Linked DNA regions of Homo sapiens. The protein of the gene in region 1 purifies or fractionates together with the protein of each later gene. This does not show direct contact. Each region holds a gene or a part of one and is shown in the gene's direction. Other genes may lie near its edges. The genes, in order: ZNF638, NAV1, AGAP1, DCLK1, RASAL2, LIMA1 and KCTD3.

The links.
Region 2: the proteins of ZNF638 (region 1) and NAV1 purify together in Homo sapiens (affinity purification with mass spectrometry, with the first as the bait; one large-scale study listed by BioGRID). This does not show direct contact.
Region 3: the proteins of ZNF638 (region 1) and AGAP1 purify together in Homo sapiens (affinity purification with mass spectrometry, with the first as the bait; one large-scale study listed by BioGRID). This does not show direct contact.
Region 4: the proteins of ZNF638 (region 1) and DCLK1 purify together in Homo sapiens (affinity purification with mass spectrometry, with the first as the bait; one large-scale study listed by BioGRID). This does not show direct contact.
Region 5: the proteins of ZNF638 (region 1) and RASAL2 purify together in Homo sapiens (affinity purification with mass spectrometry, with the first as the bait; one large-scale study listed by BioGRID). This does not show direct contact.
Region 6: the proteins of ZNF638 (region 1) and LIMA1 purify together in Homo sapiens (affinity purification with mass spectrometry, with the first as the bait; one large-scale study listed by BioGRID). This does not show direct contact.
Region 7: the proteins of ZNF638 (region 1) and KCTD3 purify together in Homo sapiens (affinity purification with mass spectrometry, with the first as the bait; one large-scale study listed by BioGRID). This does not show direct contact.

What each region holds. Positions count from the first base shown.
Region 1 is NC_000002.12:71,421,859-71,426,236, forward strand, and holds part of ZNF638 (zinc finger protein 638), read left to right. Parts: intron 1-955; coding exon 956-2,180; intron 2,181-2,791; coding exon 2,792-2,857; intron 2,858-4,378.
Region 2 is NC_000001.11:201,807,750-201,812,127, forward strand, and holds part of NAV1 (neuron navigator 1), read left to right. Parts: intron 1-203; coding exon 204-400; intron 401-668; coding exon 669-861; exon of another isoform or gene 862-953; coding exon 954-1,122; intron 1,123-1,414; coding exon 1,415-1,512; intron 1,513-1,692; coding exon 1,693-1,788; intron 1,789-2,196; coding exon 2,197-2,356; intron 2,357-2,773; coding exon 2,774-3,009; intron 3,010-3,853; coding exon 3,854-4,008; intron 4,009-4,153; coding exon 4,154-4,225; intron 4,226-4,378. UniProt on the Homo sapiens protein: May be involved in neuronal migration.
Region 3 is NC_000002.12:235,496,422-235,500,799, forward strand, and holds part of AGAP1 (arf-GAP with GTPase, ANK repeat and PH domain-containing protein 1), read left to right. Parts: intron 1-4,378. UniProt on the Homo sapiens protein: GTPase-activating protein for ARF1 and, to a lesser extent, ARF5. Directly and specifically regulates the adapter protein 3 (AP-3)-dependent trafficking of proteins in the endosomal-lysosomal system.
Region 4 is NC_000013.11:36,124,602-36,128,979, reverse strand, and holds part of DCLK1 (serine/threonine-protein kinase DCLK1), read left to right. Parts: intron 1-2,823; 5' UTR 2,824-2,842; coding exon 2,843-3,218; intron 3,219-4,378.
Region 5 is NC_000001.11:178,100,053-178,104,430, forward strand, and holds part of RASAL2 (ras GTPase-activating protein nGAP), read left to right. Parts: intron 1-4,378. UniProt on the Homo sapiens protein: Inhibitory regulator of the Ras-cyclic AMP pathway.
Region 6 is NC_000012.12:50,273,056-50,277,433, reverse strand, and holds part of LIMA1 (LIM domain and actin-binding protein 1), read left to right. Parts: intron 1-4,378. UniProt on the Homo sapiens protein: Actin-binding protein involved in actin cytoskeleton regulation and dynamics. Increases the number and size of actin stress fibers and inhibits membrane ruffling. Inhibits actin filament depolymerization.
Region 7 is NC_000001.11:215,580,446-215,584,823, forward strand, and holds part of KCTD3 (BTB/POZ domain-containing protein KCTD3), read left to right. Parts: intron 1-4,378. UniProt on the Homo sapiens protein: Accessory subunit of potassium/sodium hyperpolarization-activated cyclic nucleotide-gated channel 3 (HCN3) up-regulating its cell-surface expression and current density without affecting its voltage dependence and kinetics.

The sequences.
Region 1 (4,378 bases):
AAGAAAACCTCTGATTTGTGGAATATTGATATAAAAATAACTTATTCTGTGTCTACCTCGGTGAAAGTACTGGAATTATAGGACTACTCACTTTTCATATACTTTAGATTTGGGAAGACCATGATGAAATAAGATGAATTACATATACTTAGCCATGTATTTCCTCCATTTCTTCTGAATATTACTTACACATTTAAGTTAAATATTAGAATTATACATTATTCTCTTGAATTGGGAAGGTTTATTTTTTAATGCATTTCTTCTTATAGCCAAAGGCAAATATTTATAAGACTGTATGTTCACATAAGGTGATTATATCAGGTTTTGTCACTAGCTTTAAATCCTCAATAGAGTATATAAAGAATACTTTCCAAATAATGTTCTAAGTATTATCATTAATAAATATGGTTCTTGGGTAATTAAAAAAATATTTTACATCCAAAAAAAAAATAAAAAGGTGATATGATTTAGAGTATGGTCTTTTCCCCCCACCAGTTTCTGTTTATGTTCTTTTTAGGTAAGGTTCACTTATAAAATTTTAAATCATAATGCATGGATCATTAGTTTTATTGTAGAACTGTACACATATTTTATTATTTCAGTTACCACTGTTGGGAATAGGACCTGATAATATTTGAAGTGTCTCAGATTCACATTTGACCTTTCAATGTCAGGGGTTAACTTGACAGAGGAGGGAAAATATTGGCTGTAATCACATGAGCGCAAAAGGAACATATCAACAGTCATAATTTATATTATTTACGTATTTCCAGCAATACATCTTACCCATTTTATGCTGATTGGTTGGATTTCCCAGTGCTTATTACGAATGCATCAGGAAGTCTTAACAATTGGCATCAGCAGGATTCTTTATAATGGTTGAATTCTCATCATAGTTTGATTTTTGTTTGTGTTTTTGTTTGTGTTCTTTTTGTTTGTTTTTAAATACTTTTAGCCCTGGCTTGAAAAACAGTCCAATTGATGAAAGTGAGGTGCAAACAGCAACTGATAGTCCCTCTGTTAAACCTAATGAGCTTGAAGAAGAAAGTACTCCCAGCATTCAAACAGAAACTTTGGTACAGCAGGAAGAGCCTTGTGAGGAAGAAGCTGAAAAAGCAACATGTGATTCTGACTTTGCTGTTGAAACTTTGGAGCTTGAAACTCAAGGAGAGGAGGTCAAAGAAGAAATTCCTCTTGTAGCATCCGCTTCAGTCAGTATTGAACAATTCACTGAAAATGCCGAGGAGTGTGCTTTAAATCAGCAGATGTTTAACAGTGACTTGGAGAAGAAAGGGGCAGAAATTATTAACCCTAAAACAGCATTGTTACCATCTGACAGTGTGTTTGCAGAAGAAAGGAACCTCAAAGGAATTCTAGAAGAATCTCCATCTGAAGCAGAAGATTTCATTTCTGGAATTACACAGACTATGGTAGAAGCTGTAGCTGAAGTAGAAAAAAATGAAACTGTTTCGGAAATATTGCCATCAACTTGTATTGTGACGTTAGTACCAGGAATTCCCACTGGGGATGAGAAGACAGTGGACAAAAAGAATATTTCTGAAAAAAAAGGTAACATGGATGAAAAGGAGGAGAAGGAATTTAATACTAAGGAAACCAGAATGGATCTTCAAATAGGAACAGAGAAGGCTGAAAAGAATGAAGGTAGGATGGATGCAGAAAAGGTGGAAAAGATGGCAGCAATGAAAGAAAAGCCTGCAGAAAACACTTTATTCAAGGCATACCCAAATAAAGGAGTGGGTCAGGCTAATAAGCCTGATGAAACTAGTAAAACTAGTATTCTGGCTGTATCAGATGTATCTAGCAGTAAACCAAGCATCAAGGCTGTTATAGTCTCTTCTCCTAAGGCAAAAGCTACAGTTTCAAAAACTGAAAATCAGAAAAGTTTTCCAAAATCTGTGCCCAGAGATCAAATAAATGCTGAAAAGAAACTTTCAGCCAAGGAATTTGGTCTGCTTAAACCCACAAGTGCCAGGTCAGGCTTGGCAGAAAGCAGCAGTAAATTCAAACCTACTCAGAGCAGTCTTACCAGAGGAGGCAGTGGAAGGATCTCAGCCCTGCAAGGCAAGCTTTCTAAACTGGATTACAGAGATATAACAAAACAATCTCAGGAAACAGAGGCTAGACCTTCCATCATGAAACGGGATGACAGCAACAATAAGGTGAGGAGGGTAGGAAGAATGGCACAGTGTGTCTTTGAAGTGATTAGCTCCGCTGCTGTAGCTATGTAGTAGGAGATGTAATTTTGTTTCATACTTTCATCTCCTCACTCTACCCCGGAAGCTCCCATTTCCTTTTCTTAAATGATTCCATTGTTTAAGCCAGTAGACATTCAGAGTATTAAACTCAAGTTCATAATTTATTGACATGTTTGAAAAGCATTATTTGGATACAATTTGGAAATAACTGTGGTTTAAAAAAAAAAAAAAAAAGTCTGCAGTGAATCTCCTAAGGTGATTTACCACTCTGCTTCTGAATGGGAAACTGTTTCCTCTCTTAAATTGAAGCTTCCTTTATCAGGTCACTGATTGCCTAACTAGACATTGTGGGACGAAAAGATCAGTAAAACTGAATTTAACTACAACTTGTACAGACTGTGCCTATACTGTTTAGTGACTGTTGACTTAGTTTTGTATACATGTTAAATAATTTGCATAATTGACTGTATTTGGGTAATGTTTACTGTTTTTTTTTGTTTTTTGTTTTTTTTTCCAGAACATTAATAATATGGTTGTAAATTCCGTTTTTCTGTATTTCTTATTTACTATTTCAGACTTTGGCTGAGCAAAACACTAAGAATCCTAAAAGCACTACTGGTAGAAGTTCCAAATCTAAAGAGGTAAAAAATAGATCACAGACCCTAACCCTTCTTTTTCATCTCCATAGCACAGTTCATCTATCTTATAACTTGTGCCTGCCTTAACAATGTTAGTGACTAAGAGTTTAGAGCAAGGGATAGGAATGAGATGTTTTGTTTTTAACTTATCTCTAATCCTACCATTAATTTACTTTTTGACCTTGAGCTAGTCTAAACACCTTGTGTTTTCTTGAGGCGGGGGGAGCGGGCAAAATGTTATATGGGGACAGAAAGAGAGTAGAGTAGGGCAATACCTCCAATCTCATATTGACAGGAATAGGTTGTAGACACAGAAAAAAAATTTATATATGTGAAAGAGACTGACATTTGACTTGAGTCATCCTCATTTTGTTAAAACAGGTTATCCTTTTGGCTCTAATTTAACCTTAAGTGGATGGTCTCTAAGATTAACTTTACTGGTACCAAGTTCTGTTGTCAAACATATTTTATATTTGGTTGTTATTTTAGGTTTTTACCATTCATAGAATTTTTTTCAGTCATTTTACTTTTCTTACCTGGTAGGGGATAGATTTGGGCCTATGTTGTTGGGGCAAGGAGAAATGTTACTAGTTTTAAGCAGAAATAAGGATTATGGCTACTAAAGCAGAAATAAGGATTATGGCTACTAAAGCAGAAGTAAGGATTGTGGCTACTTCAGTTTGCTTTGTTAATTTGATAGTACAATCGCTTGTAGATATTCTCCCTAGAAATTACAGGGTACATATTCTAATGTCGTTATTATATATAATAGCAGTTAATCATTAATAACATACTAAATGTATAGGAGCCCTGGTAGGAATTTATCTTCTTTACTATTGACGGCATTTTTAAAAATTACAGATACTGTTGTTTTCAAATACAGTTATGTTAGTCATTGAGTCTTAGTAATAATTTTTTCATACAACTTTCTCAAAATGTAACCATTATATTTCTTTTATTATTATTATTATTTTGCAACGAAATCTCACTCCTGTCCCCCAGGCTGGAGTGCAATGGCGTGATCTCGGCTCACTGCAACCTCTGCCTCCCAGGTTCAAGTGTTTCTCCTGCCTCAGCCTCCCGAGTAGCTGGGTGGCATCTGCCACCACACCCAGCTAATTTTTGTATTTTTAGTAGAGCTGGGGTTTCACCATGTTGGCCAGGCTGGTCTCGAACTCCTGACCTCAGGTGATCAGCCTCCCAAAGTGCTGGGATTACAGGCATGAGCCACCACGCCCGGCCTGTATTTCTTAAAATATGTATTCTATATATAATTAGTTAATGTGTAATCAATATATACTGATAAATGGAACAGCCTAATTAGCTGTTTACTTTCTAACTATATTTGAGGTGCTTTTAGAAGTCCAGTAAGTCTTCTAGAGCACTTATTAGATGTTTGACATATGGAACAGTAAATCCTTTGTACTGTCTGACAAATACTTTAAATGTATTTTTATGTGTCATACTTCGAAACTCTTCATTTAGGAAATGTAATCTTATTGAATTTAAGTAAAAGTGGAATTA
Region 2 (4,378 bases), on another chromosome or scaffold:
GCAACCTCTGCCTCCACGGTCCTAATTTCTAGGCAACTCTTCTGTCCGTATTCTATGAATCAAGTGAAGTGTTATAGAGGGTGGCTTAATTAAAGTAAATCCCCCGCCTCCAGCTCTCTCTGTCTCAGAAGTCTCAATCCAGTCCTCCCCCATCCCAGTAGTGGAGTCCTAATGTCCCTCTACCTGGATCTGCTTTTTTCTAGCTTCGAAGTTCCTTCAACAAAGCGTTCAGTATAAAAAAGGGGCCCAAGTCAGCTTCCTCATACTCGGATATAGAGGAGATTGCTACACCCGACTCTTCAGCCCCCTCATCCCCCAAACTACAGCATGGTTCTACAGAGACTGCTTCACCCTCCATCAAGTCCTCCACCTCGTCCTCCGTGGGCACTGATGTCACCGAGTAAGTGCTCTTTGGCTCCCTGCCACCCAGCCTGTTACCAGTGTAAGCTGTGGGCTAGAGTTGACAGGAGGCCATTAGACCTTAGACAAGCAGTACTTATTACTGACCTCTCCCTGGGCATATGAGACCAACAGATGGACCTTTCTTCTCATGCTGATTGAATATCAATGGGCAGGAGAAGCCAAGACCACCAACCATGCCTCTCAATATTCTCTAGTAACTCTAGTGCTTCTTCATGTAGCCTGGCTTGACTCTTGCTATCTTACAGGGGCCCTGCTCACCCAGCCCCCCACACTAGGCTGTTCCATGCAAATGAGGAGGAGGAGCCAGAGAAGAAGGAGGTATCGGAGCTGCGCTCTGAGCTATGGGAGAAGGAAATGAAGCTTACAGACATCCGCTTGGAGGCCCTCAACTCTGCCCACCAACTGGATCAGCTTCGGGAGACCATGCACAACATGCAGGTCAGTGTCTGGGCGGACAGCTGCAGGAAAGGGAAGACCAAGGCTTGCTGTCTGTCCAGTCTGCCACCCTACCCTGTCTGTTCTTGCCACAGTTGGAGGTGGACCTGCTGAAAGCAGAGAATGACCGACTGAAGGTAGCCCCAGGCCCCTCATCAGGCTCCACTCCAGGGCAGGTCCCTGGATCATCTGCATTATCTTCCCCACGCCGCTCCCTAGGCCTGGCACTCACCCATTCCTTCGGCCCCAGTCTTGCAGACACAGGTACCTGTGTGGGAGAAGAATCTATAAGGGTGAAGGGAAGAAAAGGGCTTATTTCACTGTTACACCATTCCACTTGCTTTGGTCAGGGCGGTAACAATGCCGAAGCCAAGCAGATGCCAGTGTCCTAAGACACTGAGTTGTAATGGTCCTTCAACCTTAACTACTTTTGAGTTTGGGACCTCCATTCCTTCTCTGTGGCAAACAGAGTTATTTTGGAAAGGATAATGATGGGAAAGTTTAGGAAAGGCTGCGGGTACTCCTAAAACCAGTTGGTTCTTTTCAATCCCCACAGACCTGTCACCCATGGATGGCATCAGTACTTGTGGTCCAAAGGAGGAAGTGACCCTCCGGGTGGTGGTGAGGATGCCCCCGCAGCACATCATCAAAGGGGTAAGGAACTTCAGGGAGAGCCACAGTGGGAATGAACAAATACTGTTACATTTATCCAAGAAAATCTGGACCCTGGGTACCTCCAAAACCAAAGAACTCAACTCCTAAGGCCTTTAGGACCCCGGTTCATGGAGTCATCTGCAGTGAAGCTCAAGAGCTTTTCCTTCCTTGGCCTTACAGGACTTGAAGCAGCAGGAATTCTTCCTGGGCTGTAGCAAGGTCAGTGGAAAAGTTGACTGGAAGATGCTGGATGAAGCTGTTTTCCAAGTGTTCAAGGTAAAGGGATACCTGTACTCAAAAAGGTTGTTCATCCTCTCGTGGAATATATATACTTTTTTAGAGACAGGGTCTCACTCTTGCCACCCAGGCTGGAGGGCAGTGGCGTGATCACAGCTCACTGCAGCCTTGAACTCTTGGGCTTAAGTAATTCTCCTGTCGCAGCCTCCTGAGTAGCTGGGATTACAAGCATGTGCCACCATGCATGGCTTCTCACAGGATATTAAACCGTCCAGGCACTGGGATCCTGGGGACCTTTGAGGCTTTATGGAGAAATGCTACCTAGGAAAAGCATATGCTCTGCACTTTCTCCATCTATTTCTGTTTCCTCTGATAGACATTCTTTGTTGTGGCTTTTACACCTGTGTTTGTATATTTTCTTCTTCTTCTGCCTGTCTTTTCTGTCAGGACTATATTTCTAAAATGGACCCAGCCTCTACCCTGGGACTAAGCACTGAGTCCATCCATGGCTACAGCATCAGCCACGTGAAACGAGTGTTGGATGCAGAGCCCCCCGAGATGCCTCCTTGCCGTCGAGGTGTCAATAACATATCAGTCTCCCTCAAAGGTCAGTCTTTGTCTCTTGGGGTGAGGTGGTGTGGCATGAAGGCAGGGACAGGATCATCAAATAATCCATCATGCATTCATTCACCAAGAACTCACTGAGAAGGTATAATATGAAGATGCTTAAGTAATGTGAGATATAAAAAGATGAGTAAGACCCAGTCCTAACTTTGGCTCCCAGGGACACTTTTGCTAAGCCTTGGCTTCTTGCTTCACTCCTCACCCCCAGCTCACAGCATGTCCCTAAAAAGAAGATCTAAGTTTTCAAAACTAGGGGTTAAGGGACTCTTATGGAACCATGGGGCAAGTGGCTCTGAGTTTCTTCAGGGGGCTCCTAGATAAAGAAAGAAAAGCCCTTTAGGATCCCTTGCTATCCTCAAGACCCTGGTCAATACTCATGCTTTCTGGGGTGGGGGTTCAGGTCTGAAGGAGAAATGCGTCGACAGCCTGGTGTTCGAGACGCTGATCCCCAAGCCGATGATGCAGCACTACATAAGCCTCCTGCTGAAGCACCGGCGCCTCGTCCTCTCGGGCCCCAGCGGCACGGGCAAGACCTACCTGACCAATCGCTTGGCCGAGTACCTGGTGGAGCGCTCTGGCCGTGAGGTCACAGAGGGCATCGTCAGCACCTTCAACATGCACCAGCAGTCTTGCAAGGTGGCTGCCCCCCGACACCCCTGCCAGCCTTTGTTCATGCCTCAGCCTTCCCTAAGACCCTTCCTCGGCCCCTTCCTGCCTCATTGTTCCCTTTTCCTCACCTCTGCCTTCATCTTTCTTCTCTTCTGTGTTCATTTCCTTCCCTCTCTATCTATCCCCTTTTCCAGTCTTCTCCTTTCCCTCCCCACGATTTCTTTCCAGCCTCTTGCCTTTAACTTGTTTCTCCACACTTTCCCTTGCCTTTATGGAGAAAGGCTTTCCTCTCCACACTTTTCCTTGCTTTGTGCACCTTCCTCCTCAGTTGGTCATTGATGAAACTGCATTCTCCTCATTTCTACCCCACTGTCTGCCAACCCTGTCAATCCCATCCCTTCTCTTTTGTTCTCTTCCTTCTACTTTTCTTTTCAGTATTACTCTCTGACCTTGGGCTATCTGGGAAGAAGCACTCAGAATTAAATGGTACATATTACACCCTCCCCTGCCAAAACCTGATGATGTCTCTTGAGTACCCTAATACAATGGAGTTGGTTCAGATCTTTGCTCTTCCCAGCTCGGGGAGGCATGCCCATTAGTAGTAGTCCATGGTACCAGTGAAAATCCATCTAGGAAATAGCATATGTTCCCCAACTTTGGGGAATTTAGGGGCTGCTGCTTAAGAGGGTTGCTTTAGAGCCTTTGCAACCACTGCTTATCACTCTGTGGTAATCTGCTGTAATCAAATTTGCAAGGAACTAAAGGCCCCAGGGGAATCTAGATCTAGTAAGACTTCTTCAAAATCCTGATTTCCAAGGCCGATCCAGCTGCTTATTCCCAAGTGCTGACCCACAGCCTTCTTTTATTCCAGGATCTGCAACTGTATCTTTCCAACCTAGCCAACCAGATAGACCGGGAAACAGGAATTGGGGATGTGCCCCTGGTGATTCTATTGGATGACCTGAGTGAAGCAGGCTCCATCAGTGAGTTGGTCAATGGGGCCCTCACCTGCAAGTATCATAAATGGTAAGTAAGCTGGGATCAAGACAAAATTCATCGAAGTGGGAGGAGGGAGAACCCAGTCCAGGACAACCTATGAGTTGTGTGCATGTGGCAGAAAGCAAGTGTGAAGGCAAGTCTAAGTGAATCTTTTTCCCCTTTCTCCCTACAGTCCCTATATTATAGGTACCACCAATCAGCCTGTAAAAATGACACCCAACCATGGCTTGCACTTGAGCTTCAGGTAAGACCTCTAGCTCTGGATGAACCTTCTGACCCTACCCAAGAGTCTTCAATCCTGGACTCTGGCCAGGAGGCAGTAGATAGGAGAAGGAAAGAGAAGTATCCAGAGCTTTTTGGGCTGGAAATAGAAAGTAGATGTATTTGTCATGTCAGT
Region 3 (4,378 bases), about 160 Mb from region 1:
GATCAGGTGGTGTTGCAGCAAGGTTCCTCCAGAGCTCCAGCTCTGCGTCTGTTACGGGAGCTGTGAAGGCTGCACGGTGCTCATTTCAGATGGTTCTTCCTGGCTCTCTGGCTGCATCCACAGAAGTCTGATGAAACACTGTGAAAGCCGGCGTCAGGTATTGAAGGCACCTGGCTGAGAGCCTCTTTTGCTGCATGAAGACCTCTGGCTGAGTGGGGTTCACAACACCTCGTTTTTATTTCCCATTCTTGAAGCTGAGCTCTGGGGCTCAAGCACTTCCAGCAAAGCAGTTTGACTTTCTAGCAAGAGGATGTGGTTGCATTTTCCTTTCTCCCTTAAAAGAAAAAAAAAATGCGTCGTTCCTAGATGATGGTTTTTTTTGACAGCACGATGCCTACCTTTGCGATTTGAGATTTTAGGCCCCTTCTTGGCCGGGATCCTTGTCATTTTTAATAAGGCTTAGAATCATTGGGTGAATCCTGTTTGGGACTGGGGTGATGCTGTTATTTTTCTCTTAGAAATAGGGATGTCTACATTATGTGGAGCTGTAGTTAATTTAGTGAGGCTTAAGAACCACTCAGACATGCTGCTGTTCTTTGCATGTTCTTCTGTTATCAATAATGATACCACTTTTCATTTCTGTAGAACTTTAACAGAAATATTTTTGCATGTATAGTCTCATTGTGTGGCTTCACCAACCCTGTGAGGGTGGGTGGGTAGCTTCCTCATCCTCATTTTATGGAGGAGCGGGTGGAGGTTCAGGGAGGGATAATGACCTCCTTAACATTTGACTGAGGTGGTTTGAAGTCTGATCTGAACCAAGGGATCATTTGAATGGAGTTTCTGTCTCCACACTGCATGTGGATGGCAGGAACCCAGTGCTGGCAACTAAGCCTGCGCTGGAACATCACAGTAACTGCAGAGGGCTCCCTGCAGGGGCAGAGAGCTGCCCCTGCCTGTGCGTGCACCTTGGAGGTTTTAAAGTCTAACTGTTTCCAATCAGGACAGCAGGTGCACATCATAACAAATGGCTCAAAAAGTCACTTGTCCCACCAAATAGAAAGCTGGCCACATTTTAGAAGATTTCCAGCTAGGGATTTTTTCCCCTTCCTCTGTATGTGCATACACAGAATTGGGGTCTGACTTCCCAAGCTTCTGGACTACCGTGATGTGGGCACTTCTTTTTTTGTTTTGAGACGGAGTCTCGCTCTGTCGCCCAGGCTGGAGTGCAGCGGCGCAATCTCGGCTCACTGCAGGCTCCGCCCCGGGTTCACGCCATTCTCCTGCCTCAGCCTCCCGAGTAGCTGGGACTACAGGCGCCCACCACCTCGCCTGGCTAATTTTTTCTGTTTTTTTAGTAGAGACGGGGTTTCATTGTGTTAGCCGGTATGGTCTCCGTCTCCTAACCTCGTGATCCACCCACCTTGGCCTCCCAAAGTGCTGGGATTACAGGTGTGAGCCACCGTGCCCGGCCGGGCACTTCTTAACGTTATGAAGAGCTTTTGAAGATAGGGTTTCTCTTGTTGGCACAAAATTCCCACATTTGGCTGCACCCTACTCAAAACTTCACTGTTTTCTGGCATCTTCAGGAATTTTTGCTGTTGGAGTGAGGTGCAGCCTTGTCCAGGGGAAGGATGTTTTGGCTAATGCTTATTTCAGAGCGCGTGGAGGTGGGTCTGGGTTGTAAAATCTCTTAACGATGGACTAAACATATTTTAGTTGAAAGGCCCACCAAGGCTCCCAAATAAAAACACATCCGTAATCCTGTTTGTAGGCATGGGATACAGGTGATTTTGCCCTCAGTCTTGTTTTAAAACACTAGCTTGTCAGAAGAGAACAGTTTTTTTCCCCCAATTTTTGTTTTGTACATTGAGAGGTTTATTCCCCCCTCCCTTCACCCCCAAATCACTAGAGTTTAAGGAAGCATTGCTGATTGTTCCAGATTTATCTGATCAGGTTTCTGGGATGTCCTATGGGGCATGGCATGCTGTGAAATGTAGCCACACAGCTGTGTCGTCTCTGGAGCCTCCGCAGCCACCATGCCCAGAAATGAGCCTGAGAGCCATCTCGCCTCCAGTCTGAACAGCGTGTGTTAGTTTCCCCTCTGGTTCTCCTTAGAAAAGTCCATCGGGGGTTGATGGCATTGAGGTAGATGAATTAACTGCCTTTCTTGTTCAATAAAGCTTGTTCTTCTTTCAAGGATAAAGCCTCTCTTAGCAGTCACACATCGTAATTCAGCTTGCCAGCAGCAGGACCGTGATGTGAGTGATAGCCCAGCCAGCTCATTCAGCCAGGCGGCCCGATTCCCAGGTTCCCACGCATCGCCGGGAAGGTTGGCCTTCCTCTGAGGTTGAGCCCTCATCCAGCCCACAAGCCTCCATCCCCACCAGGTGGCCGATGAGAGGAAACCCAGGCTCTCCACTGGCCTGGCACTTGGCAGGAGAACCCTGCCCTGCACTTCTTAAGGGCATTTCCACAGGGAGATTCCAGGACCCCTTAGTAGTATCTCAGCCCCAGTGTTTGGGGGACCTGGGAAGATGGGTCAGGGTTCCCCACTTTGTCCCATGATACAGCTGCTCTGTTGAGCATGTGTGTCCCACAGAGTGCGGAGTGTCTGAGGTGCATCATCTCAGTTCGTCCTGCAGCGATCTTGTACACAGACGCACTGCTGAGGCCAGAAAGCTTAGGACACTTGTGCGAGAGCGGTGAGCTGGGCCCGTCCGACCTCACCTCTGGCCCTCTGTCGCCGTGTGAGATTGCGGAGCCCCTGTTATTCATACTTCCCATAGGCCGTGTGTGCAAAGCATCCCAAGCTTGTTTCCGCCACCCAAGGCAAGAGGGTTTGAGAAGGCCCCAAAGAACCTAAAGTATTCTGTTCTCTGTAAAGCAGCTGACTGTGGCAAAACTTCCAGAAGCATTTGTTTTCATGTGGAAATGTATTTAGTCCGGTTGATGCAGGTGTGCATGTTTAGGGAAACAAACATTTTCTTCCTGCTGTGGATAAGTGTCATGTTTCTTTGTCACCATTGGCCATGTTCATAATCCTTCAAGTTGAATGAAAGGTGGCAGGTTTGCAGTCCCCTCCTTAAAAATAACACTCAGTTGGCTTTTAGTTGCTTCCAGGTGAGCTCTCGTACCTTGCCGGCACCCGGGACCTCCACAATGCGGGCGTTCCTTGTGAGTCCAGCTTACTCATGCTTCTCAGTTGTGGTGCAGGTGCTCTTTGAGATGCCGCCTTCTCTGCCTGTTGCTCACCCTGCGAGGCTCGGTCTCTGTTGGTGTCACTCATGACCAGCCTTGCCTCGCCAGAATTAAGGCCCTCCTGGTCTCTGCCCACCGTGTTTGGCTCATCTACTTAATCAGCTGGGAGGTCTGGAAGCTGGTTGAGGGCAGAAATCAGGGCTTGTTTATTGCTGTATCCTCAGTGGTTTGATAGATCACGTCTGGCCCTTGAAGGATGCCCAGGGGTTTGTTGGCTGGCTGACTTGCCAGAGGGTCCTTTCCAAAGCTCCTTCTTGGTAGGATAAACAATGTTTATACGCTGCAGAAGTGAGGACAATTTGAAACGTCCCCAGAGCACAGAAGTTAGGGTTAGACACCTTTTGGATTTGGTGGGCTGGCTTGGTGGGAACTCAGTGTCATGTGGTGTTTGGGATGGAAGTGAAATTTTCTTTACTGTAGGTAGGGGAAGCAAAAGATTTGCTTGCTAAATCTTGGCAGCTTTTTCAGATCAGCTGTCTACAACAGGTTGGTGTTTATGTTGGGTGTAAGTGAATTTCAGACATAGAATCAATATTAAGAGGACAAATGGGTGACAGCCTGTGTCACTGCCATGATATAGTATCTTTGGCGTCACACCGAGAGCAAACGTGAGTGTGTGTCAGGTCACATTGAGGGCTGATGGAAACAGATTGCCGGCCCCTCCCATACCTCCCGAGTTTCTAGTTCTGTGGGTTTGGAGCAGGACGCACGAATGTGCCTCTCTAAGAAGTGTCCTGAGGATGCGGATGCCCTGGTCCAGGGACCGCACTTCTGGAAGCATAGCTGTAAAGGAAAGGCAGCTCCAGTTGACTTGGTATCATCTCTGGGCCGTTGTTTCTTCTTCCTTGCTGTGCTTGTAGCCAGCTGAGAAGGTTTCCTATCAGCCTGCCCTGCAGGTTTCAGGTGAAGACACCTAAGGCCAGCTGCTCAGGGAGTTGCTTGTGGTCACGCAGGCTAAGTGTGGTGGACGAGGGACTTAAACCAGATCTGAATGGTTTCAAGCTGGTGTTCATGTGATCTTCATGATGCTGTTTGAAAAGCAGCTGAATGCTGGGTGAGGGGCCTGTCGTGCCAGACCCCTTTAAATTTCATTAGGGATGGCACCGGGTTCAAGAGA
Region 4 (4,378 bases), on another chromosome or scaffold:
TGGGAGTGTCTTCCACTCCACCCCCAAGACACACTCCCTTTTAGAAGACAAGAGAGCTCACTTTAAAACCATATAAATTAAAAAGTAAGAGCAGTTACCAATATCCTGGACAAAAATTGGTTCTGTTTAACAACTAATGCCTACAGGACTGGATATCAAGGGATCATTGTTTTAAAGTTATCTAACATCAAAATCAATGAAACCAGTTCAGAGCTGCCTATATATAACTGTTTTTGAAAAATGCAAATTCTGACTACTATGAGTTATTAAGAGGCAAGAAATAGTTTTCATATTTGGAGGGAAAAAAGTACACTGAACTCATTAACACTCCAGGTTTAAATCACACTTCATTTCTCCCTCCCCAGACCTTCAGTGGGGTCAGCAATAGACCCATAAGCAGGTAGATAGAATCACCAACATCAGAGGCCTGCTGACCACTGCTTCCTCTGTGTGCAGACGAGGTCTGGATCAGTTATGTGGCCTGTCCAAGGTCACTGAGCTAGTTAGGAGTGAGGGCTTACAAAATCCTGCTTCTCATGCTGAAGAGGAACCAGTTTCAAAGGAGCAAGGGATGGAAAACACCAGCTTTGGAGTTACAGTAAATCTGGGTTCAAATCTCAACCCCTCAGTTATAATTTTGGGACCCTGGATAAATTCCATATTCACCTGAATATTAATAATATTACCTACCTTGTTGGATTAATATGAGGTTTAGAAGAGAATTTTTAGCATATTATACAACTGGTTGATGAGTAATAGTGTCAGGTACCTCCTAGACCTTCAGTAAATATTGCTTTCTTTCACTTCATTTCTGGAGTACCAAATCTCTAGTCATGCTTTCAGGTGTGAAATTTTAGCCACTCTGAATGGATCAGAGGTCAGTTTACTGAGGGCCAAAGAAAGGTTGGGGAGACAGTGGTGCATTGGTGAGTGTTCACTGACCTTCAGAAAGGTGATGTCCATCTAATATGGTGGGACTTGGGGAGTGCTTGTAAGGTTCTTGCTCCAAATTTTCCATTTTCCTGATATTCTATTTCAACATGCCTGAAATTTTGTCATTAAAGTGTCTTTCCTTTGAATGCTTTGGTCTTTCCACTTTCTAGATTGTCTTGTTAAACCACAGATTCCCCTGCAAGGCTCCACAAACCTTTATCAACCAACCCCTCAGCAAGGATGAACTGGTCCTCCAGTCAGCTTGCTGTGGGGACCAGGGGGTACAGATGTACCTTTCAAAAGGTCATGAGATGGAGATCAGGAAGAAAGCAGGGGCCTCTCTTGCCAGAAAGGAAAGATTCTATTCCTGCTAGCTCTTTATGTGTCAGGGCCAGGAACACAAAAACAGATTTTATTAATAAAAAAATTAGTACTTATCACATGTCAGACACTATGATAAGAACTTCATGTGCATGAATTTATTTAATAGTTAATACTGACTGTGAGGTAGGTACTGTTCTCATTCCCATTTTGTGGTTGAGGAAATCAAGGCTTAAAGATGCTGAGCAAGTAGATTTTTCAAGCTTACACAGCTAGCATGGGGTCAAGTGTAAATCGACATCTTTAAGCCTCAATTTCTTCAATCACAAAGATAGTCTTAATGAAAGGAAGAACCAAGAAATGTACTTCCAAACATTTTTTCCTTTCTTGTTGTTCCTCTTCCTTCTCCTCCTTCTCTTCCTTTTTCTTCTTTTTTTAAACTCAACTTTTCTGAAGTACTAAATATAAGTAAATGAAGTATAGTGAATTTGCTTTTAAAAATATTGAATGTGTGAATATGTTGGAAAATCTTCTTTAAGTTGGTCCAACCTACAGATTGATTTAATTTGCTCTCCATCTGGCCATGGGGCACACAAACATTATGTAAAACTTTTACAATCTGACTGTTATGCTGCCTGCCCTCTCTTTCTGTCCCAGCCCACCATAGCTACTTCTCTTTCACTGTATGATGATATGAGAGCTTATTTTCTTCCTGCTACCAGGATTAGCCCTCTGCCCTGCAAGGAGCAGTGGGCTTTGGAGTCAGGGAAACCTGGAACAGAGTTGCTGGTACAAGCATTTCTCAACTGTATTACTTGGAGCAATTTAGGGGAAATTTTTCTGTGCCTCAGTTTCTTCTTTTGTAAGGAAGGACAATACTTTGGAAAGTTGTTGTGTCTATTGGGAATAATATCTGTTTGAAGCCTGATGAACCATGGGCAACCTAGGAGCTGCTTCTAACAAATTTGTGGCTGATTAATAAGCTGTTTCCACTGGGATCGGCCTCTTCTGCTGACAGCGTGCAGAGGAGCCTGTGTTTATTTTGTGGGAATTCACATCCCTTTCTCTTTCTGTCCCACTTGATAACTCATATTAAATGTGTCATCAGTTAAAGCAATATTTCCACCCAGCTGTTCTGAAGCAGACCCTTTGAAATCATGATCTCAAAATAACATCATCCCCAAACTTTGGGAGGCCAAAGGGGTTGGGGGGCGGGGGAGGATCACTTGAGGCCAGGGATTCAAGACCAGCCAGGACAATAAAACAAGACCCTCATCACTACTACTAAAAACAAGCAAATGAACAAAAAATGAAGGAAATTAACCAGGCGTGGTGCAGGCACCTGTAACCTGTAGTAGTCCCGGATACTCTGGGAGATTGATGCAGGAGGATCATTTGAGCCCAGGAGTGTGAGGCTTCAGTGAGTACTTCAGTGAGTGCCATCTCACTGCAGCCCGGTGACAGAGCAGGACCCTGTCCCTAACATAAAAAAAACAAAAACAAAAAAATATATATATATATATAACCTACATCAATATGTGTGTCTGCTTTTGTTTCTGGGGCTCGTAGGTCCTACTTGAAGTCCATCATGTCCTTCGGCAGAGACATGGAGCTGGAGCACTTCGACGAGCGGGATAAGGCGCAGAGATACAGCCGAGGGTCGCGGGTGAACGGCCTGCCGAGCCCGACGCACAGCGCCCACTGCAGCTTCTACCGCACCCGCACGCTGCAGACGCTCAGCTCCGAGAAGAAGGCCAAGAAAGTTCGTTTCTATCGAAACGGAGATCGATACTTCAAAGGGATTGTGTATGCCATCTCCCCAGACCGGTTCCGATCTTTTGAGGCCCTGCTGGCTGATTTGACCCGAACTCTGTCGGATAACGTGAATTTGCCCCAGGGAGTGAGAACAATCTACACCATTGATGGGCTCAAGAAGATTTCCAGCCTGGACCAACTGGTGGAAGGTGAGCGCTGTGAGATAACCCCCACGTGACCCTACAGGTTCCAGGCTCAGATTTCCAGTGTTGTAGCCGATTCGCATTTGCCCTCTGACAGTTGACATTCAGCCTTATGGCTGTGATCCTTATAGTTTCAGACATACGAATGTGCTATTGTGTAGAGTAAAAAGGAAAAAAAATTAATGGTATTGTCAGGTAGCTTATAATAATGTGCTAAGGGAAAAAGTCCCTAATTCTACAGCATTCTCTATTTTCTTTCTCATACCCATGCTGCATTAATTTTAAAAGTCCATTTTATCTCTTCAATCTCATAGTTTATATTCGTTTCTAAATGCAAATTAAACTTTTGCTATCACGATATCCGAAAGTACTTGAATTGAAAATGACAAATGGATCATGAAATTTTAGAGTTGAAAGGAACCTTAGATAGCTATCAAACCCATTAATTTTATCTTTGGAGTCTAAGGACCAGAAAATTCAAATGACATGTCGGTGGTTACGTGGTAAGATAGTGATGACCCTGGACCAAAACAGGTTTTCTGACAGCTCGTTCCACTGCGATGCTTCCTTTTGAGTTTAAAGGATTATTGTCTTTCTCTGATTTTTGAGGATATGCAGGGACTAATCTGTTCAGTTTAATTTTTTAAGTCCAATTTAGGTTAATAGTCATTATCTGTTTTAGACATTTAATGTGGAAATAGGACTGTTTGCGTCCACGGATGCAGCCTGGTATCTTATGCAAGCAGAGAAGGTCACCGACTCTGGGCTACACTTGCCTCAGGACTGACCCTGTTTGAACAGGGCATAAAGCCTGTCATTGCCTTAGAAATCATCGCCAATTAAAATGAGTTGGAGAAAAAAGACTGGGATTAAATGTATACCAAGGTGCAAAAAAAGCTAGCAGATCCTTTTTGGAGGGTTGATTTTTCTGAAATTGAGATCTCAAGGCCCTGATGATGAAGAAGTAGATGGCACAAAAGAATCTGGGAAAGGGAGGTTGGATGGAGTGTTGGAAGAGCTTGATTTCACCTTGAGTTCATTTTTACTCCAGAACTATTTGCTCAGGCCGTGTAACTCAACTGGGTCCAGGAGGGATGCCATATAATCCCTCCCTCTCTTGTGCAGGTAGCAGGAAGCACCCGTTGCAGCCCCGTTGGAGTTGGGGG
Region 5 (4,378 bases), on another chromosome or scaffold:
AGTCTTTTGCTTTTCAGAGCTTTTTTGATTTAGGAATTGCAGATATGGAATTGAGGATCTGTACAAATCTTCAGACATAAATAATACAAAGTTCTAGAACACCCCTCTTTAAGAATAGTTTGTGTGGATATCCTTTATCTTTTTCAGATAATAACATTTACTGAACACATTTTTAAAAATGGGCCGGGCGCGGTGGCTTATGCCCATAATTCCAGCACTTTAGGAGGCCAAGGTGGGCGGATCACCTGAGGTAAGGAGTTTGAGACCAGCCTGGCCAACATGGTGAAACCTTGTCTCTACTATAAATACAAAAAAAAAAAAAAATTAGCAGGGCATGGTGGCACATCTGTAATCCCAGCTACTCGGGATGCTGAGGCACGAGAATCGCTTGAGCCCAGGAGGGAGAGGTTGCAGCTAGCTGAGATCGTGCCACTGCACTCCAGCCTGGGCAACAGAGCGAGACTCAGTCTCAAATAAAAAAAAAAAAAAAAAGTTGTACAGTTGTGTTTCCTACTATAGTGAGTGAAATTTCTGTGGTTTGCTAAGAAAAAGAAAAGAGATTCACATGACATAGTAGGCTTTACCAAGATTATTAAGGAAATGGTGGCAAGGTAGTGGTTTCGGATCCTTTGTTTCATTAGAAGGAAGGATGAGGTAAGTTGAAATAGAGGGTTTATGTAATTGTTCTTTGCAGTTGCTTTCTTCAGTAGCACAAAGTGATTTGATCACCTTTTAAGTAGGTGAACCACAAAAAAGCATTCAACTAATGACAGTTAATTCAGAAAAACTTCAGCTGTTTGCTCCCTTGTCCCTCCCTATTGGAAAAACTTTTAACTAACTAGAGAGTTGTTTGGTCTTGTTAACCAGGAGGAGGAGTTTGAAGTGTGCTAAGGGCACTGCTAAAATTGCTTCACCCTATCTTGGTAGAGGGATAATTGCTGTCTGATGTTTGTAAAAACACCTTTCTTCCCAAAGGCTGTCAAGTACTTCTTAAGGCTAGCATGTAGAAAACCCTTTTGCAAATTTCATGTAGTTTATTTTATAGTGAGAGGGCAGCCCATCAAGAAGTAATGTGGTTCACAAGTAGAAGGGAAAAGAGAAGTCTTGAGGCCCAGTGCAGTGGTGTTAGTGAGTATACAGTAAACAAAAGAAATAAAAATTGAACCCTTAAAGGCATAAAAACATTTCATTTGCTAGACTATGATACAGAAGTTATCACTTTCCTAATCTCTACAGCTGGGTTCAGATATGAGCTGTCTGAATTTTACCTTCCCTTACCAGGTGTTAGTAACATCAATTAATTGTCTTTGTTGGCTTTGCTCATAAGGGTTCAGTTTAGATCCTGATTGTATTTTTACCCCTCCATAAATTATCTTCAACATTGCTCGAGTTCCATTCACATTGTGTCACTTGTAGCAGACTTTCTAAAAGTACCCCTTACCTCCATCCCTGAGTCTAAGGGATTGGTAATACTTATAGATATTGATTGAGAGAGTGAAAATTTAGTGAGGGGAAAACATTCAACATAGATAAGATAACAAAATTCGGAAGAGTAGTCTGAAAAGTTAAAATGAAACCTTAAAGTCAATAGTTTTTGATATTTTTCAAAGCAATCCTTTAGGTTTTCTCATTGAAGAAACTGGCTCAGGAAGTTTAGCTTATTCCCAAAATTGGAGACAGACTCCACAGTTTGTCAGGATTGGAACTCTTAACCTCAGATTCCTTAGCCTCCTGATTTAGCTTCTAGATCTTGCTGCCTTCCCTTAGGGAGATGGCCTCTCAAAGCTGAAGGTCAGGAAAACTCGACAGTGAGAAATACCAGATTGTTAGTTTCACAGTCTTTTAAGGGAAATGCTGGAAATACCATTACCTAGGTAACAGAAAACAAAAATGGACAAAACATCCATAAAGTAGGAGGATGAAAATAATTTCATAGTAATCCTTAAGAGATAGACCAGAGGACAGATGAGATTTTTTTTTTCATATTTTTCCTAAGCTTATTATGCATACTTTTTTTGGTGCTGTGATTGGAAGTGATGTCTGAAGGAAATTTGAATTTCATATATGATGCTTAGAACCCTGAATAATACCTAATAACTTTGTACCTTCCACTTGAATTTCTAACCTCTGATTCCTGTCATTAAAAATTAATACCCTTTTTCTGATTATGAATATAATTTGTGCTTAACATAAAGAATTAGAATTTTAGGAAAAGCCAAAATTAAAATCATTTGTAATTCTACCTCTTAGAGATAACTATCATTTTTTTTTAAATATTATATTTTAGAGACGGGGTCTCATTCTGTTGCCAAGGTTGGAGTGCAGTGGCGCAATCATAGCTCATGCCCAGGTTGGAGTGCAGTGGCGCAATCATAGCTTACATATTATCCATTGCCTGGGTTCAGGGGATCCTTCCACCTCAGCCTCCCGAATAACTGGGACTACAGGAGTGTGCTACCACACCTGGCTGAGATAATTATTCTTTTAATATTTTATTGTGTTTTATTCCAGTCTTTTTTGTGTACAGATTTTTTTGTATTAATACATATTTGGTATCAAACTGCATATATTTTACATTCTACTTTTTTTCTCTTAAGTGTATTTTCTCATGTTATTGAAAACATTAACACATTTTTTTAAATATGTTATTTATTTTAAAAAATAGGTAATATATTCCTTTGTTCCAAAATTCAGAGTATAAAAAGATATTCCATGAGCTCTCTCTTACTCTTCCTCCCTGCCTCTACAACTTGCCATCTGGCAGGCATGGTCCCTCTTCCCAATCAATAAATACTTGAAATTGTTATGTATCTTTCCATACCTATTCCACGTGCATAGAAGCAAATGTAGAGATAGATAGATATGTAAAAATCCTGCCATAAGTGGGATCCAAGAAATCTAGTTTACAAAAAATTCAGGGTTATATTTCTGTGAGGTTAGTGAAATGACCAGAACAAACCTGCAAATGAAGTTGGCCATGAGTTCTGGGGGTCTGGAGCCGGTAAATTGCTTTATATCTGAAATGATATCATAGGTTTTTACTGTATATATGCATTTTTCTCTATTTTTACACGTATGATAACCCATTAGAACTGATTTTTATCTGCACTTTGAGATTGCTTCTTCTTTCTTCCCCCCGCCCCTCACTTATTAATGTATCTCAGATATATTTTCCTTTCATTTTGTAAAGAGGTACCTCATTCTTTTTATGGCTGCATAATGCCTGAATTAATCATAACTCATTTAATTATTCCCCAAGTTTTGCTAGTTCAAGTGATTTTGCAGTGAATGATCTTGAGTATAAGCCATTTTGCTTGTGTATGAGCATATCTGTAAGAAAAATACATAGAATTGCTAGGTCAAAGGTACGTGTATTTGTAATTTTGAAAGATATTGCCAAATTGCCCTACCTGTCTGTACTTCGCCCGCAATATATGAGAGTGCCTGTCTCCCCACACATAATGAATTATCACGAAATTTTGGATCAGACAATCTGAAAGGTAAAAATGGTGTCTTAATTTAATTTTTTTTAATATCTTTTACATTAAGTGTGATTGAACATCTTTTCATTTTTAAGAGTCATTTAAATATAACCTTTTCTGTGAACTGTACATACCTTTTGCCCATTTTTATTGGGTTCTTGGATCTTTTTCTTAGTGATTTGTAGGAACTATTAGTATATTAAGCAAAGCATACTAAGGAACTCTTAGTATTTAAGTAAAGAACCCTTTATCTGCAACAGTTGCCAGTATTTTCATTTTTCTTATGGTATTCCCCCCACCCTTATGAAGAAATGATTCTTACACAATTGAATGTATCGGATTTTTCTTTTATGGCTTTTTGGTTTTATGTCAGAATGTATTTTATGTTAGAATGGGCTTTCCTGGGAGTTCTCTGGACCTTTATTTTGTAACCTCAGAATAGGAAAGCCCATTCTTTTTTTTTCCCCCTCTACATACACTAAGTACCTAAATACCCTTGGGGGACAAAAAAAAGAGTGGGCTTTCCTGTTCTGAGGTTATGAAATAATTCTCTCTTGGTTTATCTAGTACTTCGTTGGTTTTATTTTTTACATTCAAATCTTTAATCCAGTCTGGTATTAAATATGAGATATGGATCCAATTTCATTTTTTGAAAGATGGCTTTCCAGTTGTCCTACCATCATTTGTTGAAGAAACCAGCTTTTTCGCACTGATTTAAGAAGACTTCTTTATTCTATACAAGATTGCCATTTATATTTTGGGTTATTTCAAGATTTTCTATTCTGTTCTATTGGTCTGTTTATATTCATGTGCCAGTATCACACAGCTTTATTGTTGAGACTTTATAATATGAAAATACAATTTTTAATGACTAACATTATTTAACCATTATTCTA
Region 6 (4,378 bases), on another chromosome or scaffold:
TACTTTCTGTCTCATCTCTAACCTTTCACCTAATTTTAGATATATAGAGCCTGAGGAAAGACTGGATGCAGTAAAGGCAGTGTCCACCGGAGTAGCAAGGGGAGCCTGGGGACAGCTTAATTTGTTTGTGCCCTTTAACTTTCAGGAAAATAGAAGTATAAAAAAAAAATTGAATGGGGTTCTTGCTGTGGGGGTTGGGGGAAGAAAAGAAAAAAAAAGAAGTCAAAAAGATTGGTATTTTTTTAGGCACTCCCATAGACTGACACTTGGAAACTGGTAAGATAAAATCACAGAAGCCCTGCTGACCTGTGCCACAAAACTCGATTATCTACAATGTATGTGAAAAATGTCTCATTTTGTGACTAGAGGGTGTACGTCTCCAAGGCAAGTTATTTAACAACTTCTTCTACTTCATACAGAACCATTCTTAGTGTTTTTCTTTGAGATTGGTATAAACTCTTCTAAGAATATTAATTTTTTGTCCTGTGGTCAAATATTTAACCAGTTTGCCTTTTAATTTTGTATATAGTATATTATTACTTATCTATAGATTTTTTTTTTTTTGAGACAGTGTGTCACTCAGTCACCCAGGCTGGAGTGCAGTGGCACAATCTCGGCTCACTCTAGCCTCCTCCTCCAGGGTTCAAGTGATTCTCATGCCTCAGCCTCCCAAGTAGCTGGGATTACAGGCACATGCCACCACGCCTAGCTAATTTTTGTATTTTTAGTAGAGACAGGGTTTCTCCATATTGGCCAGGCTGGTCTTGAACTCCTGACCCAGGTAATCTGCCCGCCTCGGCCTTCCAAAGTGTTACAATTACAGGCGTGAGCCACCACACCCAGCCTGGATTTTTAAATTTGAGATTTCTTCTGGTGCTGTGATGTTTAGAAGGCCTTCACCATCCAGAGATTGGTTAAATACTCACTTTCATTTCCTTCTGATTTTTACCGTTTTACACTTTATATTTAATTCTTTAATTTGTATTGAACTTACTTTGAAGTACCAAACCAATATGTTTAATGCCTTTGTATATCTGAGTTCCAGATCTGTATTTCCAGCTACCTGTTAGGCTATGTGGATAGTCCCTGTACGCCATGCATCTGCGTACACCCAGATTCACTAAGGAGAAAGCTTGAGGTTGTACTTACCACTTTAATACTTTTCTCCACCCACATTTGATCAATCCCCAAGTTTGGCTGATTCTGCCCCAGGGGTGATAAGAGTTCTTTAATCAGTCTTCTAATTCAGATTCCCCTTTTAGTTTTTTGCCAGAGTCCTTGAGTCCTTGAGTAATCCTTAGAGTTGGCTTCAGTTTTTCCCTTGCAGAAAAGTTATCAGAGTTGTCATAAAAAAAAAAAGCACTGATTTTCAAAATATGGTTCCTTTAATTGCCTGTGTTAGAATTACCTGGCAGTGGTTAAAAAGGTAGAGTCTCAGGTCCCACCTAGACCTGCAGATCAGTGTGTCTGAGGGATGGGCCTGGGAACCTGAAGTTTATCAAGTACCTCAAGAGATTTATATACAAACTTAAGGGGAGACAATGCCTAAGTAAATTCAGTCTAGCTTTCTGACATGCTCTTCAAGACACCCACACCCCCACTCTGACAGCCTATTCTTTTAGGCTTATCTCCCACAACACGACCCACCCACCTGGCACTGTGACCCTACAATAATTCTCTGTTTCCTGGACCTGCCCAGTTCTTTCCTGCCTCTGTGCCTTTGCTCATGCAGTTACCACAGCCTCATGCTCCTCCCCTTCCCCACCCTCTTGTTGAAATCCTTTTCCTTAAGAGCCCAAATCAAATGCTACCTTTTTAAATTTTTTTAATAAAAAAAAGCCTTTTCTAATTTCTTCTACTTGAATCAGTGGCTGCCTCCCCAGTCTTTATACTTAACACTTGATTTTTGCTTCATTTCTTACCTTACTTAATGTTGTCACTATTTATAAATTATTGCTTCCTTGTAAGATTACAAGCCTTTTAGGTATGAGAACCTTTCCCTTCCTTTTCATTTTGTGGCCATTATGCACATATAAACAATTAAGAACTCATTTTATTTTATTATTTTGAGACACAGTTTCATTCTGTCCCAGGTTGGAGTGCAATGGCGCAATCTCAGCTCACTGCAACCCCCACCTCCTGGGTTCAGGTGATTCTCATGCCTCAGACCTCCGGAGTAGCTGGGACTACAGGCACGCGCCACCACGCCTGGCTAATTTTGTTTTTTTTTTGTATTATTAGTAGAGACAGGGTTTCACCATGTTGGCCAGGCTGGTCTAGAACTCCTGGCCTCAAGTGATCTGCCCACCTCAGCTTCCCAAAGTGCTGGGATTATAGGCATGAGCCACCGCACCTGGCCAAAGTACTCATTTAGTACATGAAATATATCTGATCTTGCAAACACACTTTTATATAATAATGTTTGGCTTTGTATCACACATAGAATAAAATTAAAATCCTTTAGCATTGTTATTAATCCGTATTTAATCTGACTACTACTCATCTCTGTGTCATCGCATGCTTCTCACTTACTTCCTAGCTGTATTATTCCTTCCTCAGGGCCTTTGCATTTGCTTTCCTCTACCTGGAAAACTCCCCCATCTATTGTCTTCACCTTGCTGGCTGCATATGTTCTCCCCATCATTCAGGTTTCAGTTCAAATGTCATTCACTCAATGAGGCCTTCCCTGATCACTGCCTAAAGAAGCTGTTCGTGTCCCTGTTCCTACCACAACTCCAGTTACTCTTTTTGTATTTCCTTCACACCACTAATCACAGTCTTTAATTGTCCGGCTTCTCCAGTGGAATGGAAATTTCATGAGAGTAGAGACCATGTCTGTCTTTTTTTTTTTTGAGATGGAGCCTCACTCTGTCACCCAGGGTGGAGTGGAATGGCACGATCTTGACTCACTGCAACCTCCAACTCCCAGGTTCAAGAGTCTCCTGCTTCAGCCTCCCAAGTAGCTGGGACTCCAGGCACCTGCCACCACACCCAGCTAAATTTTTTATTTTTGGTAGCGACAGGATTTCACCATGTTGGCCAGGATGGTCTGCATCTCTCGACCTCATTATCCGCCTGCCTTGGCCTCTCAAAGTGCTGGGATTACAGGCGTGAGCCATCGCGCTCGGCCTTGTCTGTCATTTTTAACATTATATCTTCAGCACTTGGAATACTGCCAAAGACTTGGTAAATGCTAAATAAATATTTGTTGAATGAATGAATAAGCCTTGAAGATGGACTTTTCATTTGGACAAGTCTTGTTTTGTTTTGCAATCCAAAGTGTTGTATTTTTTTTAACTGGACAACAGCTGAGGTCGGTCCATCTGGGTTCAAATCAGGTAGCAGTCTCTGAGGAGTTCGGAAGGTAGCAGGACAAAAGTTTGGATACTGTGACAACCAGGATTAAGTTCCATCTGAGTGCAAGTTTTCTAAGGTGTTTCCAGGATCCAGGCCACTATTTTCCTACCACTATAGCCATCTACTTCCCAGATTGTTACTCTGGATTATACTAGTCTATCAACTCCTATTACATTTTCAAAAGCCAGTGTGGCAAAACTAAAACCCAATTACTGGAATCCACAAACAACCAGAAGTTTTCTTCTGTTTTCATTCTCTAGGAGAAAAATTAGAAAGCTATCTAGAATCTTCAAGAAAAAATGAAATGATTTTCATTATACTTACTATTAACACATGCTCTGAAATGTGTTACTGTTTAGACACACTGTTTAGACAGTGTACTGATTAGAAAGATTTTCAGCAACAGCTTTAAACAAAAGGTTTCTTATTAACATCTAGTTGAACCAGACATTATAATGAATTAGTTCTAATTTCTATTTCTTTTCATTGGTTAGTCTTTTTTAATTCCATTTTTTTTCTTAATGCTGGCTTGAAGTTTTATTTAAAATAATGCTTTGTAGAGTAGCTGACAGTTTTCAAAGTACTTTTGCTTTTATCCTTTCATTTAGTCCTCATAAGCATCCTGTGTGAATCAATACCTGTTTTTGAGATGAAGAAATTGAGGCCCAAAGACAGTGATGATCTTTCCCCTGCCAACTGAAAGACCACTACCCAGCAAATGCCTCTCAATAACTATTTTCTACAGTCCCGAATTAAATGTAGCTTTTAGAAGCTAATCATTAAAATTCAATTGAAACAGTAACATTAATATGTTTATAACCAGGCCAGGTGTGGTGGCTCACGCCTGTAATCCCAGCACTTTAGGAGGCCAAGGCTGGCGGATCACTTGAGGTCAGGAGTTCGAGACCAGCCTGGCTAACATGGCAAAACTCCGTCTCTACTAAAATTACAAAAATTAGCCTGGGAGAGAGAGTAAGGCTCCCTCTTAAAAAAAAATGTTTATAACCAATTCTTTTTTTTT
Region 7 (4,378 bases), on another chromosome or scaffold:
GTTATTGCACAAGTGGTATAGTTTAATATCTAATATGTGAAACTTACAAAGAAGTAGTTTGGTTTTACTAATGCTTACATTCTCAGAGCCTGAGAAGCAATGAAGAATAGTGTAGACCGGTGATTTTTTTTTTTTTAATTGGGAAAGTGATAGGACTCTTAGTTCAAAATCACTGTACTCATTGAGAAATGTTGATGACAGAGAATGGTGTAGAAGCACAAAAGTGGTTGGAATATACTAGCTTAGATTATTATTTCATTTAATTGCAGAAAAATCAAAGATACATAAACTATTTGTTTATCACTGTTGAGTTCGGTTAAGAAAAATAGTCACAATAAGCTGAAAAATATCTAAAATGTCTTCTAAAGTTTACAGATATAGTTTAAAGAATCCCAGATGTATTTTTTTTTTAAAAATCTGAATTTATGAAAGGTTTGGCATGTCTGGTAAGTGCTGTTTATATCAGTAATCTCAGGTTTATATTTTCCTTGTAGTAATGATTAAGTGCAGACTTTTATGTTTTAAGAGTGTTTTGGCTGGGCACGGTGGGTCACGCCTGTAATCCCAGCACTTTGGGAGGCCGAGATGGGTGGAGTTCAAGATCAGCCCGACCAACATGGTGAAACCCCATCTCTACTGAAGATACAAAAATTAGCCAGGTGTGGTGATGCATGCCTGTAATCCCAGCTACTCGGGAGGCTGAGGCAGGAGAATCACTTGAACCCAGGAGGTGGGGGTTGCAGTGAGCTGATAGCTCACCATTGTACTCCAACCTGCGCAACAGAGCAAGACTCTGTCTCAATAAATAAATAAACAAATTTTTAAAAAAAGTGTTTTGTGGATTTGTAATTTTAATTATGAAATAGCATGGAAATTGTTTTTTGCATAATTTCTTTGGGGATGGTTTTGTATGAGGCAAGACTAATTTGGTAAAGTAATTTTTTTTTAGGAAGCATTGTTTTGAATTTATCATCTTATATATTTGAATTGAGGTGACTTGTAGACCCTTGTTTACATATTATGTACATATTTTTGTCAATAAGGAATTCCAGAAGAATTGTGAAATGATAAGTGATCCAAGTGTAACAGCATAACTTCCGTTTTGTTACTGTACACAATACTAAAGATTGCTCTTTTCCAGAACCACCACATTATTACGCAAAATTTAACTCACTGGGTAATAATTGTATGGAGGATGATGCTATTACATTTTCCAGTCTTTGCGTTTGCATTGATCACGATCTTTCTGTGCTTTCACCAAGTGTCTGACATTTCAGAGCAATATACTCATGTAAAGTGACGAAGGAAGACAATTGAGGACATATTTGGATTTCCTCACATATAGTTAAATCATTCAACACAATGGCAATAAAAAGATTTCAAAAGAAAGAAAAATATTTAAACTGTTTAAAAGTGTAATCTTTTTTACAAGTTATTTTTCCTCAAGTTTTTGTATCAGTAAGTTACAAAACCTTTAAAAAAAGAGTAGTACAGTGAAGACCTGTATGATGTTCTCCTAGCTTCACTAATTTTCTACATGGTTAGGTTTTATGTTTATGTCCCTTTTTCTTGCTGAGTTTATGACAGTGTTACTTCTATTAACGAAGAGTAGTTGTGTGAATTGCTGCCCCCTTGGGGCTTATATTCCACTTTAGATCTTTAATCCTTGTGGAGTTTACTTTTTTGTATGTGGTATGAGATTTAAGGATTTATTTTCTTCTCAGTGGGTAGGTAATTATGTTCTGACAATTTATTACGTAAATCATTCTTTGTCAGTGAATCTGATAGCCCATTTTATCTTGCTTTATGTGTGTGTATATACTTGGATCTGTTTTTCAGTTCTCTCATTTCCTTAAGACATATGTCTATTCTCATACAACTTGAGGTGAAGTATGTTCATAATAAGTTTCAAAATCTCACAGGGCATGTCCTCTCTACTGTATTTTATTGAGGTCTTCATGTAGGAAATAACTAGACGTAACTCTATTCTTCGCATAGCTGTCTTAACCAGAGGGTTGGTTCACTAGGCAGCAGTAAGATGATGGAGAGGTGAAATAACAGAGCATATTCTTGTTTTATATTTTGTTTTATTTATTATTATATATTTTTTGTTTTGTTTTGTTTTTGAGATTTTGAGACAGAGTCTTGCACTGTCACCCAGGCTAGAGTGCAGTGGCGTGATCTCGGGTCACTGCAACACCTGCCTCCTGGGTTCAAGCAATTCTCCCACCTCAGCCTCCTGAGTAGCTGGGACTACAGGTGTGCACCACCACACCTGGCCAATTTTTGTATTTTTAGTAGAGACGGGGTTTCACCATGTTGGCCAGACTGTTTTCAAACTCCTGATCTCAAGTGATTCACCCGCCTCAGCCTTCCAAAGTGCTGGGATTCCAGGCGTGAGCCACTGTGCCTGGCCTTGTTCTACATATTTTAAATGTATTACTTGTATGGAAAGTTATAGAGCAAATATGTACCTTCTTTGTAATTTTTTAAAAAACAGGTAAATTCACATATCTTATTAAGAGTTAAATTCTGTAGTTGTTATAGTTATTTTTAAATATGCTGTCCTGATTCTTTTATCCTTTTTTGACATCTCTTTATTGTGTAATACCCTAATTACTATAGAGAAAAACAACTTAGAAGTAATATGTCTGTAAAAGATGAGATTATATAGTTTTTTTTTTTAAGTGAATCCAAGTTTATTAAGAAAGTAAAGGAATAAAAGAATGGCTACTCCATAGCCAGAGCAGCCCTGAGGGCTGCTTGACTGAGTATACTTACAGTTATTTCTTGATTATATACTAAATAAGGGGTGGATTATTCATGAGTGTTTCAGAAAGGAGCAGGCAATTCCCAGAACTGAATGTTCCTCCCCTTTTTAGACCATATAGGGTAACTTCCAGACATTAGATGTCATTTGTAAACTATCATGGGGCTGGTGAGAGTGTCTTTTAGCATGATAATGCATTATAATTAGCGTATAATGAGCAGTGAGGACGACCAGAGGTCACTTTTGTTGCCATCTTGGTTTCAGTTTTGGCTGGCTTCTTTACTCCGTCCTGTTTTGTCAGCGGGATCTTTGTGACCTTTACCTTGTGCTGACCTTCCTTGTTACGCTGTGACTAAGAATGCCTAACCTCCTGGGAATGCAGCCCAGCAGGTCTCAGCCTTATTTTACTCAGTCCCCATTCAACTCTGGTTTGAACACCTCTGACATGTTTTCCCCTTCCCTTTTACAAGGGTACTCTTAATCCTAAGGGTTTCAGAGGGAGGAAGATTCATCTTCTGTAACTTCTGCAGTCTGAATAGGGATGATGGTATTTCTGCCTATTAGGGTCTTCTGCATTCAGAGTAGAGGAGAGCTCAGTTAGAAACTGTCAGTATGGTGAGAACTCTGATTTCTGACAAAAAGTGATGACTGAAAAATTAATAAGTGTTCGATTTAAGAAAGCACTGAGTAAGCTTATCTTGCATTCCTACACAAAGAGAACAACAGCAGTATATTCTACAATAACAAGGCAAAATAAGTAAAATTATCCCAAGTAAACTAAATAAGAAGGCTTTTCATGAACTGGGAAATTGTTGTAACCAAGCTGATATGGAGTTGGAACCAAGCTGATGTGCTAGCCAATTCCAATACATGCCCACAATTAGAATACTGATCCAGATTTCTGTGTTACCCATGCCTCTTGTTTCTTCTGAACAGCAGCCACAGATCACTGCTTGGTCCACAAGGATAAGCAGGATGAGTCCAAATTGCAGAAAGAACTCAAAAACTACTGATGAGACAAATCTAATAAAAAGCATACCATAGTTTTTGAAACAATTTTCCTATTTTCAGTCTTTCATTTTTACTAAAGAAATCATGGTAGGACTGATTTGTTTGCAAAATAAGCTTTAGTCTTATTATACTTGGCCTGATTATTTGTATAAAGTGCAGCAAGAATAATTAGTTCCTATATAGGCTCTTTTTAAATTGACTTTGATAGAACTTTGATCCATAAAGAATCTCAAATGAGACTTCTTAAAGCCTTGAGCCTTGCCATGGGTTTATCATTGCCTGCAAATACCTGTATGAGTTGGGTAAGTTTCTTTCCTTTTGAGGTTTCATGATAACTTGGGGCTTTTGGGCCTGTCAGAAAGTGACTTTCTTTACTTACCCCAGACAGGTCAGAAACCTTGTACAGGGACCGTGTAGACAAGATATGTGGCCAGTTTTTCCCAGGGGCTTTTATCAGCTCTATGAGTCAAATTTGATTCCTTAAACAAGTCCATATCTGAAAGCATGCTATTCCAGTCAAAGTCTTGGTAAAATAACCAGTTTCTCCAATTGTGTCCTGTTACAAAAGAAAACAGATTCTTATTGTAGTTACATATT